2 separate regions of the Homo sapiens genome follow, and region 1 is reported to be linked to region 2. The links are microRNA targets in miRTarBase. Many come from high-throughput screens and were not tested one by one. Region 2 holds a microRNA gene; the other region holds the end of a gene's coding sequence.
What was found. Region 2 holds the annotated microRNA hsa-miR-4999-3p (UCACUACCUGACAAUACAGU, at 4,031-4,050, opposite strand). A microRNA usually pairs through its seed, bases 2 to 8, with sites in the 3' UTR of a target mRNA and lowers its output. Matches are read on the target gene's strand: a 7mer-m8 pairs with bases 2 to 8, a 7mer-A1 pairs with bases 2 to 7 and ends in A, and an 8mer does both.

Region 1 (5,357 bases), not on the chromosome of region 2:
CATCTTTAAACGGTGGCAGGCTGTCAACCAGCAGTGGAAAGTGCTGAACTATGACAAGACAAAAGACCTGGAGGATCAAAAGGCAGGAGGCAGGACCAACCCCCGGACCTCCTCATCCACCCAGGCCAATATCCCCTCCTCGGAAGAGGAGACCGCAGGCACCCCTGCCCCTGAGCAGGGCCCTGCCCAGGCTGCCGGCCACCCCTCAGGCCCTCTGTCCCATCACCACTGTGCTTATACCATCCTGCACATCCTGAGTCACTTGAGACCTCATGAACAGCGAAGTCCCCCAGGCAGCAGCCGAGAGCTGGTCATGAGAGTCACGACAGTGTGAGAGCAGAGGCCCGGAAGGAAGGCCATGACCACCACTGAGGGCCCGGAGCAGGGTGGGGAGGTGCAGTGGCACCCCCAGAGCCAACAGAGGGAGCAGGCAGAGGGTGGGGGACCTGGCGGGAGCCCTGGGGTAGTGTCAGAGCGGGAGTGAGGCTGGTGCAGGAGCAGTTCTGCTATTTCCAATCAGTCAATGCCACTCTCCACAACAACAATGAAAACCAACACCAACTCAACAACAAAGTGCAATACAGGCTGAACCTGGCCCAACAGAAAAACCCTGCCCCAATGCACCTGCAGGCAAGGTACCCGAAGAAGCAGAGGCTGAGGGCAGGCAAAGCCTGTGTGACTGTGGCAGTGCCGGAGGCCAAGGGGGCCAAGAGGAAAAGCATCTGTGGTCTGCTCTGCTCTCACCCTGTTTGGTTTTGTTTCTCCTGGGGCTGTGTTCTGCAGGCAGCCAGAAAAGGAGGAGGCACGGGTGAGCTGGCAGGGACACACTGCCTTTGGGGCTCCTGGGCTCATTTGGATGGGCAAGATTCGCTGACAAATGGCTGTGGGGATGGTGGGGTGGATGGTCAGGGAGGGATGCTCAGGGAGGGATATGCTGGTGTGAGCAGCCAGAGGGAGAGTGTGTCTCCTTCCTGAAGGAACTTCCAAATGGAACTCCCGATTTCAGGTGGGCTAAAAGAGGGCTTAGGTTTGGAAAAGGGTGTCCTTCTGTGCCCTTGTTAATTTATTTTATAGTGATTTGGTTCAAAGATGTTTACAGGACACACACACACACACACACACACACACACACACACACCCCTAGAGAAAAGTACAGATTTCCAGTGGATATTTCAAGCACAGTTCTGCTGCTGTGGCTTCAGCTTTGGAAGCTGTCAATCCCGGAGCAACTTTCCCAACTACCCAACCCCACCATGGCCAGGACATGTGCAATGCCAGCCCCTTCTTGTCTTGGCACATGCACAGACCCAGTCCCCTCACGGTAGGGCACCCCTGACCTACGGGCTTCCAAGAGAGCAGCTGCAGTGGTTGGGAGGAGCTTGACCAGTGTGCCCCAAGGAGTGGAGTAGAGCCCAATCTAAGTATTCCTTGCTGCTTGGAACCCTCCCTGTTTGGAACCCTCCCCAAAGAGGCAGTCAGGCTGATGCTCAGTGCTTTGTGCTCCCTGCTCCTTCCCGCGTAGCCAGGTGGGCCCAAGGGTGCCTGGCAGGGAGCACTACCCCTGGACCCCTCCTGCTCGCTCTGGGGACCCTGCCAGGGAAGGCCACTGGGTGTTCACCTGCAAAGTTTCTGGTTGTCACTGCACAGTGGTCGCGTCATCCATGGGTATTAAAAGGACACTGTCAAGTACTTTTTTAAACTAGTTTTTAGGGTTTTTTAAAACTCTCTGTTGTTTGTAATATTCTCTTAAAAGCTTGAAAATAAAACTTCTTTCCCTACCATTAGTGTCCCTTTCCATATGCGAGTTTTTCTTCCTCTTCCCTATCCTCCCTCTGTGGTGTAAACAGCCTTCTTTCTCCCTGTGTCTGCTCCATCCCTTGGAGCATTCTCCAAGGGATAGATTCTCCCCCATCACAAGAAATCAGGCACGTTTTCATTTCTCCTCTGAGGGCACGGACAGGGCAGGATAGGCAGGGATGTTCCCTTCTGTGTGCCTGTGTGTGAATCTGCAGTAAACTCCTGGCCTCTTCTTGGCATCCTAGCAGACAGAGTCCTTCAGGCCCCAGGCTCTCCCAAGGATTCTGCCCAGGAATCCTAGAAGCAGAGACCATGGGTGCTGGGGGCAGTTTGGAGAGCTCCACTTCATCTGGTCATTTCACAGAGGCTGGGAAAGCCACACACAGGAGAGGAGTGTTAGGACCTCATTGCCCTGACAGTGTCCTTTGACTATCAGAGGACAGCACCCACGTTAAGACCTCATGAGAAGGCTTGGACATATTATGAGGCAGCAGACAAGATCTTTTTTTCCCTTCAACTTAATCTGGCCCTCCCACCCTGGGGCTGGCTGTGGGTCAGGCAATGACATCAGTCGGGTGTGCATAGGCTTAGAAAGCTTCCTCCCTGATGAAGCTCAAAATCCAGAGAATTAAGAAAGACACACTTGGAGAGAGACCGAAGGACACATACAAGGAAAACATACAAACAAATGAAAACCAATCACACTGTGCAAATAAACCATGTAGAGGAAGCATGTTTATTTTTCAATATGGTCTAGGAACAGGGCTTTCAGTTTAAATAAACATTTATGGAGGCTATAGATGTGTTATATGGACTATCTGTTTTCAAAAAAGTATTACAGAGTGGGTTGCAGTGGCACATGCTTTAGTCCTAGCTACTTGGGAGGCTAAGGCAGGAAAATCACTTGAGCCCAGGAGTTTGAGGCCAGCCTGGGCAACATAGCAAGACCCCAATTCTAAAAAGAAAAAAAGGCTGGGCACAGTGGCTCATGCCCGTAATCCCAGCACTTTGGGAGGCCAAGGCAGGTGGATTGCTTGAGGCCAGGAGTTCGAGACCAGCCTGGCCAATGTAGTGAAACGCCATCTCTACTGAAAATACAAAGTTAGCCAGGCATGGTGGCACACACCTGTAATCCCAGCTACTTGGGAGGCTGAGGCAGAAGAATCACTTGAACCCAGGAGGCGGAGGTTACAGTGAGCCGAGATTGCACCACTGCACTCCAGCCTGGGTGACAGAACAAGATTCGGTCTCAAAAAAAAAGAAAAGAAAAAAAGGTATTATAATACAACAAAATATGCATATCATCAAAACTATAGTGGCCATGATGTTGTTTTTCTTTGGTGGTTCACAAGGCTCTTTAGACTCTTGCAGCCATTGAAGGTCATCATTTGAATATGTTGTACTGAAGAAGAAGAGGCAATTAATAATAAACTCTTGTAGGATGCTGGAGTTTATTGGATCTTGATAATGCAAGCTCCAAGAGAACAAAGACCTCATCTGCCTTGTTTACTGCTGTATTTTCAGGACCCACAGCAGTACCTGGCACACAGTAGGTTCTCAATGAATATTTTTGAATGAGTAAGACACTCTTGGAAGAGTGCAAGAGTACGTTCAGCATCTAGGAGACACGCCTCCTCTTCTTTCAACTTATGCTCTAACACACAAGGTCAATCACAGAGTAGAAAAGAAAGGTCAAGTTCTGACTTCTCCACCCAACAGGATGGTAATTTCCCAGTGCCTTGGGGAGTTGAATTTATGGGTACAGAAATGAATGAATTGGGGTTTTATATTTTGTATGCGTCTCTGGGAAGCAAGGTAAAAGTACACACTGATGACCAGAGATCACTGCCCTCTATCAGATGTGCAGATCATCTTTCATACCATGAGGCAAATGTCTATATTTCCTGTGGAATTATTTAATGCAGAGTAATGAAAAGTAGCGCAGAGTTCACTTGCACATCATCTGCAAGTATGACCCATGTATGGGGCAATATACTAGCTAACATCTGAAGTTCTTACTATGTGCAAGGCACCAAATGGAATGCTTTATATGTATTAATTCACTTAACAGTCCAGCAACCTGATGAAACAGATACCATTCTTATCTTCATTTTGCAGATGTGGACGCTGAGGCCAAGAGGTTAAGTAACGTGCCTACAGTCACCAGCCAGGATCCCATCCCCTGCAATCTGGCTTGCTTATTTATTTATTTATTTATTTTTGAGACAGAGTTTCACTCTTGTTGCCCAGGCTGGAGTGCAATGGCACAATCTTGGCTCACTGCAACCTCTGCCTCTTGGGTTCAAGCGATTCTCCAGTCTCAGCCTCCCAAGTAGCTGGGATTACAGGCACCCACCACCATGCCCGACTAATTTTTGTATTTTTAGTACAGACGGGGTTTTGCCATGTTGGCCAGGCTAGTCTCGAACTCCTGACCTCAGGTGATATGCCCACCTCGGCCTCCCAAAGTGCTGAGATTACAGGTGTGAGCCACCGTGCCTGGCCAGCAATCTGGCTTTCAGCATAACCACTCTGTCACATTTCCTCAAGACAACCAGCCAATTTAAGGAAAATCTGGATCAGGTCAACCAGGGAGATTAGAATGTGAGAGATCTACAGGAAAGCTTTGGAGATTGGGGTAAATACAAATAAATGATTTATGTCCCCTACAGAAAAAAAAGCTGAGTTTACATGACAATTCTTGCTGTTATATCCAGATAATATCATGGTTGAATGAAGCCTATATAATAGCGGGTTGGTTATATTTGAGAACAATGGAATTCTGAAAGGGCAATAGGAATAGTTCAATCATATTTTTATGGGGAAAGAGCCAAGATTCATATAGGTTCACAGAGGCCTCTCCTCCCAATTAAAAAATAAAAATAAAAAATTATCCTCTTTGGATATTAGACTTTTGGCACTGGTTCCAAATGAGTGGTGTGGAGTGGCAGGTTGGGGGTTCTAGTCACAGTCCACAGCATTTAGGAGAACCCCACAAATATGAGGTCTTGTCCCTACCTCTCAGGAAAATCAGGTGTCACCATCTTAGAACATAGAAACTCCAAAATCATAGAATTGTTTTAGTCTCTATGAGATAACTGTTATTTGTTTTGCCTGTGAGATCCGGATGTATGGCAGAGGGTAGGGGCATGGTTTGATAGGACCATAACCAATTTCTAAGGATAATTGTGTGTTCGTAAGCAGAATTTCTTGTATTGTGGAGGTGAGAGGGCAGCGGGGGTGGGAGGAAAAACGCATATTGTATTGTTCCTCGCTACCTTTCCTCAAATTATCCTGCCACAGCATTGATGCAGTAGTCCCAAAACCTTCTCCCCACACTTTCTCACCCCCCTTATTGGTAGAATAGAATATGGAAACTAGGCAATCCTTGGGGTGCTGTGGACAGTAGAGTGAAACTCCGGAATGACTCCAAGTGTGAGGAACTGGCCTCGTTCAGGGTCTGGGCTGCCTTGGCTGGTGGTCAGTGGGCTAGCTCAGTACCTACTCATCCCACCATGGGCCCCCATCATGGGTCCTCCCTCCTCCCACATCTACTCCTC
Region 2 (5,329 bases):
AGGAACTCCCTTCAGGACAGGATGATAGATGGTTCCTCCCAGGCGATTAAGGGAAAAAGACACAATGGGTATTCAGTAAGTGATAAGGAAACTCTTGTAGATGCAGAGTTAGGAAAATTGCCTAATAATTGGTCTGCTCAAACATGCCAGTTGTTTCCACTCAGCCAAATCTTAAAGTACTTACAGAATCAGGAAGCAGCCATCTATACCAATTCTAAGTTAATATGGACTGAACAAGGTCTTACTAATAGCAAAGAATAATTGAAATCCCAAACTTACAAGGTTTTCAACAAAAGTAAAGTTTGCTAAAAAAGTTAACAGTGTAACATGTATTATCCTAACTTCTAATCTTATGGAAATCAGACCGTATCTGTGCCCCTCAAAGCTCAAGTCTATCAGCGCAGGGCCATACAACTAATATCCCTACTTATAGGGTTAGGAATGGCTACTGCTACAGGAACCGGAATAGCCAGTTTATCCACTTCATTATTCTACTACCATACACCTTCAAAGGATTTCTCAGACAGTTTGTAAGAAATAACAAAATCTATCCTTACTCTACAATCCCAAATATACTCTTTGGCAGCAGCAACTCTCCAAAACCACTGAGGCCTAGACCTCCTCACTGCTGAGAAAGGAGGACTCTGCACCTTCTTAGGGGAAGAGTGTTGTTTTTACACTAAACAGTCAGGGATAGCACGAGATGCCACCTGGCATTTACAGGAAAAGGCTTCTGAAATCAGACAATGCCTTTCGAACTCTAATACCAACCTCTGGAGTTGGGCAACATGGCTTCTCCCCTAGGTCCTGTGGCAGCCATCTTGCTCTTACTCACCTTTGGGCCCTGCATTTTTAACCTTCTTGTCAAATTTGTTTCTTCTAGAATCGAGGCCATCAAGCTACAGATGGTCTTAAAAATGGAACCCCAAATGAGTTCAACTAACAACTTCTACTGAGGACCCCTGGACCGACCCACTGGCCCTTCCACTGGCCTAAAGAGTTCCCCTCTGGAGGACACTACAATTGCAGGGCCCCTTCTTCCAGCAGGAAGTAGCTAGAGTGGTCATCGGCCAAATTCCCAACAGCAGTTGGGGTGTTCTGTTTAGAGGGGTGATTGAGAGGTGAAGCCGGCTGGGCTTCTTGGTTGAGTAGGGACTTGGAGAACTTTTCTGTCTAGCTAAAGGATTGCAAATGCACCAATCAGCGCTCTGTGTCTAGCTAAAGGTTTGTAAATGCACCAATCAGCGCTCTGTGTCTAACTAATCGCGTAGGGGACTTAGAGAACTTTCCTGTCTAGCTAAAGGATTGTAAATGCACCAATCAGCACTCTGTGTCTAGCTAAAGGTTTGTAAATGCACCAATCAGCACTCTGTCAAAACGGACCAATCAGCACTCTGTAAAACGGACCAATCAGCACTCTGTAAAGTGGACCAATCAGCTCTCTGTAAAATGGACCAATCAGCAGGATGTAGGTGGGGCCAAATAAGGGAATAAAAGCAGGACACCGCAGCCAGCAGCGGCAACGTGCTTGGGTCCCCTTCCATGCTGTGGAAACTTTGTTCTTTCACTCTTCCCAGTAAATCCTGCTGCTGCTCACTCTTTGGGTGCGCACTGCCTTTATGAGCTGTAACACTCACCGCAAAGGTCTGCAGTTTCACTCCTGAAGTCAGCGAGACCAAAAGCCCACCAGAAGCAAGAAACTCTAGACATGTCTGAATATCAGAAGGAACAAACTCTGGACACACCATCTTTCAGAACCGTAACACTCACCGGAGGGTCTGTGGCTTCATTCTTGGAGTCAGCAAGACCAAGAACCCACCAATCTGGACACAGGATGTGTTATACAAAACTTATAGGAGGCTATTACTTTGGACTGACTTCCTACACCAGGCCCAACAAACTAAACCAAAATGGAGTCACTCATGCTAAAGTTTTACGTGATCAAAAAGAAACTAAGTTGTTTATCTGACCTTCTACAAAATCAGGAGAGAGAGAGATGGGATAGCCAAGTCTCCCACCAGGTCAGTTTTAGCCATCATGATAAGGATGTCCTCTCTGCTTTAACCTTTACAAGAAAAGTAACTTTGGGCTGAGTGCGGTGGTGGCTCATGCCTGTAATCCCAGCACTTTGGGAGGCCAAGGCAGGAGGATTGCTTGAGTTCAGGAGTTCAAATCCAGCCTGGCCAACAAGGCAAGACCCTGTCTCTGGAAAAAAAAAATTAGCTGGGCATGGTGGCACACACCTGTGATCCTAGCTCCTCAGGAGGCTGAGGTGGGAAGATTGCTTGATCCCAGGAAGTTGAGGTTGCAGTGAGCTATGATCGCACCACTGCACTCCAGCCTGGGTGACAGAGCAAGACTCAGACTCCAAAAGGAAACTTTAAAATGACCAATCCAAGTTTTCTTTTCTTTTTTTCTTTTTTTTTGAGTCGGAGTTTTGCTCTGCTCTCCCAGGCTGGAGTGCAATGGTGTGATCTTCGCTCACTGCAACCTCCGCCTCCCTGGTTCAAGTGATTCTCCTGCCTCAACCTCCTGAGTAGCTGGGATTACAGGCACCTGCCACCGCGCCCGGCTAATATTTTTGTATTGTTAGTAGAGATAGGGTTTCATCATCATTATCATGTTGGTCAAGCTGGTCTCGAACTCCTGACCTCGGGTGATCTGCCTGCCTCGGCCTCCAAAGTGCTGGGATTACAGGCATGAGCCACTGCACCTGACCTCCACGTTTTATTTTCTGTTTGTGCTTTACTTGGCCCTTTTTCTGCCTGTAAAACCAACCTACCTGCTCAGCTCATGGGAAAATTAGTTTCATTTTGTGAAATGAAGTGTTGCCCGATTGTAGAATTGCAAATAAAATCAATTAAGATCTTTAAACTAAATGTGTTGTAATTTTGTTTTTTTGACAGATGCCCAATGAACACCCTGGGAATGAGATCCAAGAGGCGATAATGGCATCTGCTCTAATAACTAGTACATTGACTCTAGGCTTAGATTATTCACCACTGAATAAATAAACGTATTTATTCAGCAGTGGGGAACTTACAGCAATGATGGGGACAGATACAGTCCCTGATGTCATCAGGCTGATATGCTGCTGACAGAGGACAAAAAACAAACAGATCAATGGGTCAGGAAAGCAAGGCTTTTTTTTTTTTGAGACAGGGTCTTGCTCTGTTACCCAAGCTGGAGTGCAGTGGGGTGATCATGGCTCACTGCAGCCTCGATTTCCCAGGCTCGAATGATCCTCCCGCCTTGGCCTCCCAAGTATCTGGGACCCTGGCATGATGCACCACATCTGGCTAATTTTTGTTGTTGTTCTTTTCTTTTTTTTCCTTTTCTCTTTTTTTTCCTTTTTTTCTTTTTTTTTTTTTTTTTTTGAGAGACTGGGTTTTGACATGTTGCCTAGGCTGGTCTCTAGCTCCTGGCCTCAAGTGATCCTCCCACCTCAGCCTCCTCAAAGGGCATGTTTTTAGGCATAAGCCACCGCAGCCAGCCAAAACAAACAAACAAAAAGTAACGTATACTTTGTGTTAATAATTTTGCATAGTATATTGAAAATTTGCCAAGAAAGTACATTTTAGATACTCTCACTACACACACAGTTAATTATGGAAGGCAATGGATAGGTTAATTGCTTAACTCTCATAATTGGCCATGTGTGGTGAAAATGCCTGTAATCCCAGCACTTTGGGAGGCCAAGGTGGGCGAATCACCTGAGGTCAGGAGTTCGAGATCAGCCTGACCAACATGGAGAAACCCCGTCTCTACTAAAAATACAAAAAAATTAGCCAAGCATGGTGGTGCATGCCTGTAATCCCAGCTATTCGGGAGGCTGAGGCATGAGAATCGCTTGAACCCGGGAGGCAGAGGCTGCAGTGAGCCGAGAGCACACCATTGCACTTCAGCCTGGGCAACGACAGCAAAACTCCGTCTCAAAAAAAAAAAAAAAAACTGTCATAATTATTATTTCACTGGGTACATGTGTATCAAAACACACGCTGTACACCCTAAATATATAAAACAAACACATACTGTATTGTCAGGTAGTGATAAATCCTATCACTACCTGACAATACAGCAGTATGTGTTTTATTTTCTATATTACCTATTTTTATATTTTACCTATGTGGCAAAATATAGGACAAAAGAGGGGTAGTGGTAGGAGGTCCTGTTGGAGAGCATTGGTATCCAGTAAGGATTTAAAAGTATTTATTTAACAAAGAATAGCAGAAAGTGGACGGTTGATTCACACTTGGTGCAATCTCGGCTCACTGCAACCTCCACCTCCCAGGTTCAAGCGATTCTCCTGCCTCAACCTCCTGAGTAGCTGGGTTTACAGGCACCAGCGACCACGCCCGACTAATTTTTGTATTTTTAGTAGAAACGGGGTTTCACCATGTTGGTCAGGCTGGTCTCGAACTCCTGACCTCGTGATCCGCCAGCCTCGGCCTCCCAAAGTCCTGGAATTACAGGCGTGAGCCACCGCGCCTGGCTGATCTGGTTATTTTCAAAAGATTCCATGAGACGGGTTTCTTCAGTTTACAGAGGAGGAAACTGAGGCACAGAAGGATAACCCAGTGAGTCCCAATATAGAGATGGAGACTGCAACCGAGAAAGGGGACCCAGCGCTGAGGTCCCCGGAAATGGTCATTTATGGGCTTGGGGGGCGACCAGGGCAGCGCGCGCTGACCTATGACGTCATCGGGACGTTAAGCATCGTAGCATTACCTGGACGTAGCCCCATTTCTCTTCCCGGACAGGTCCTCTGATAGTCGGGTAGGTTCTCAATCAAGCCTCTCATTAGTTATTTGGTCTGTCAATCCATTTCATTCCTGCAGTCTTCCGCCCCGCCCTCTTGAGCTCGCCCCTGATAGGCTGGCGCGTCCGTCACTTCAAAAAGGTCCGCATTCCTTCCGCCTTTCTCCAGGACACCGAGGGCGAGGAGGGTGGTACCAAGCGGCGCCCACCCTCAGAGCACTACTTCCATCTCTGATTGGCTTCGCTGGGTGCCCGTCGCTACTCCACTCGCCGCTGATAGGCCATTCAACCGCCGCTCTGCGCGGCGCCGGCTCCGCCCCCGTCGGGTGTTTGTGGTGGGGCTGCGGAGTCGCCGATCCCGCCGGAAGCGCCAGGACAATGGGGACCCGGGACGACGAGTACGACTACCTATTCAAAGGTGCGGCCGGTGGGGCACAGACGGGCGAAGTCGTGGCGGCGAGGCGGCGGGCAGACGGGCCAAGGCCGCGCTCCAGGCCGCTGGGCCCAGGCCGGAGCCCGGGGCTTGGGGCCCGGCGGGTCAGGCAGCCGGGAAGGCCGGAGCCGACCGGGC

Region 1: miRTarBase lists MARCHF4 as a target of hsa-miR-4999-3p. Seed matches in the 3' UTR shown: 7mer-m8 at 463-469.

The regions. Positions count from the first base shown.
Region 1 is chr2:216,254,289-216,259,645 of GRCh38, reverse strand. MARCHF4 (membrane associated ring-CH-type finger 4) reads left to right here. Exons shown (of 4, transcript NM_020814.3): 4 at 1-1,781. The coding sequence ends at 334. Among named protein-coding and RNA genes, the nearest start is that of LINC01963, 40 kb to the right of the region's middle.
Region 2 is chr19:8,385,281-8,390,609 of GRCh38, forward strand. MIR4999 (microRNA 4999) reads right to left here and starts at 4,100; the gene lies at 4,010-4,100. RAB11B (RAB11B, member RAS oncogene family) reads left to right here and starts at 5,080. Exons shown (of 5, transcript NM_004218.4): 1 at 5,080-5,176. The coding sequence starts at 5,137. It overlaps RAB11B-AS1 (RAB11B antisense RNA 1), which reads right to left. Exons shown (of 3, transcript NR_038237.1): 1 at 4,729-5,329. It overlaps LOC124904632 (a long non-coding RNA gene), which reads left to right. Exons shown (of 2, transcript XR_007067128.1): 2 at 884-2,879. RefSeq lists silencers at 4,712-4,993, 5,213-5,329 and an enhancer at 4,743-4,942.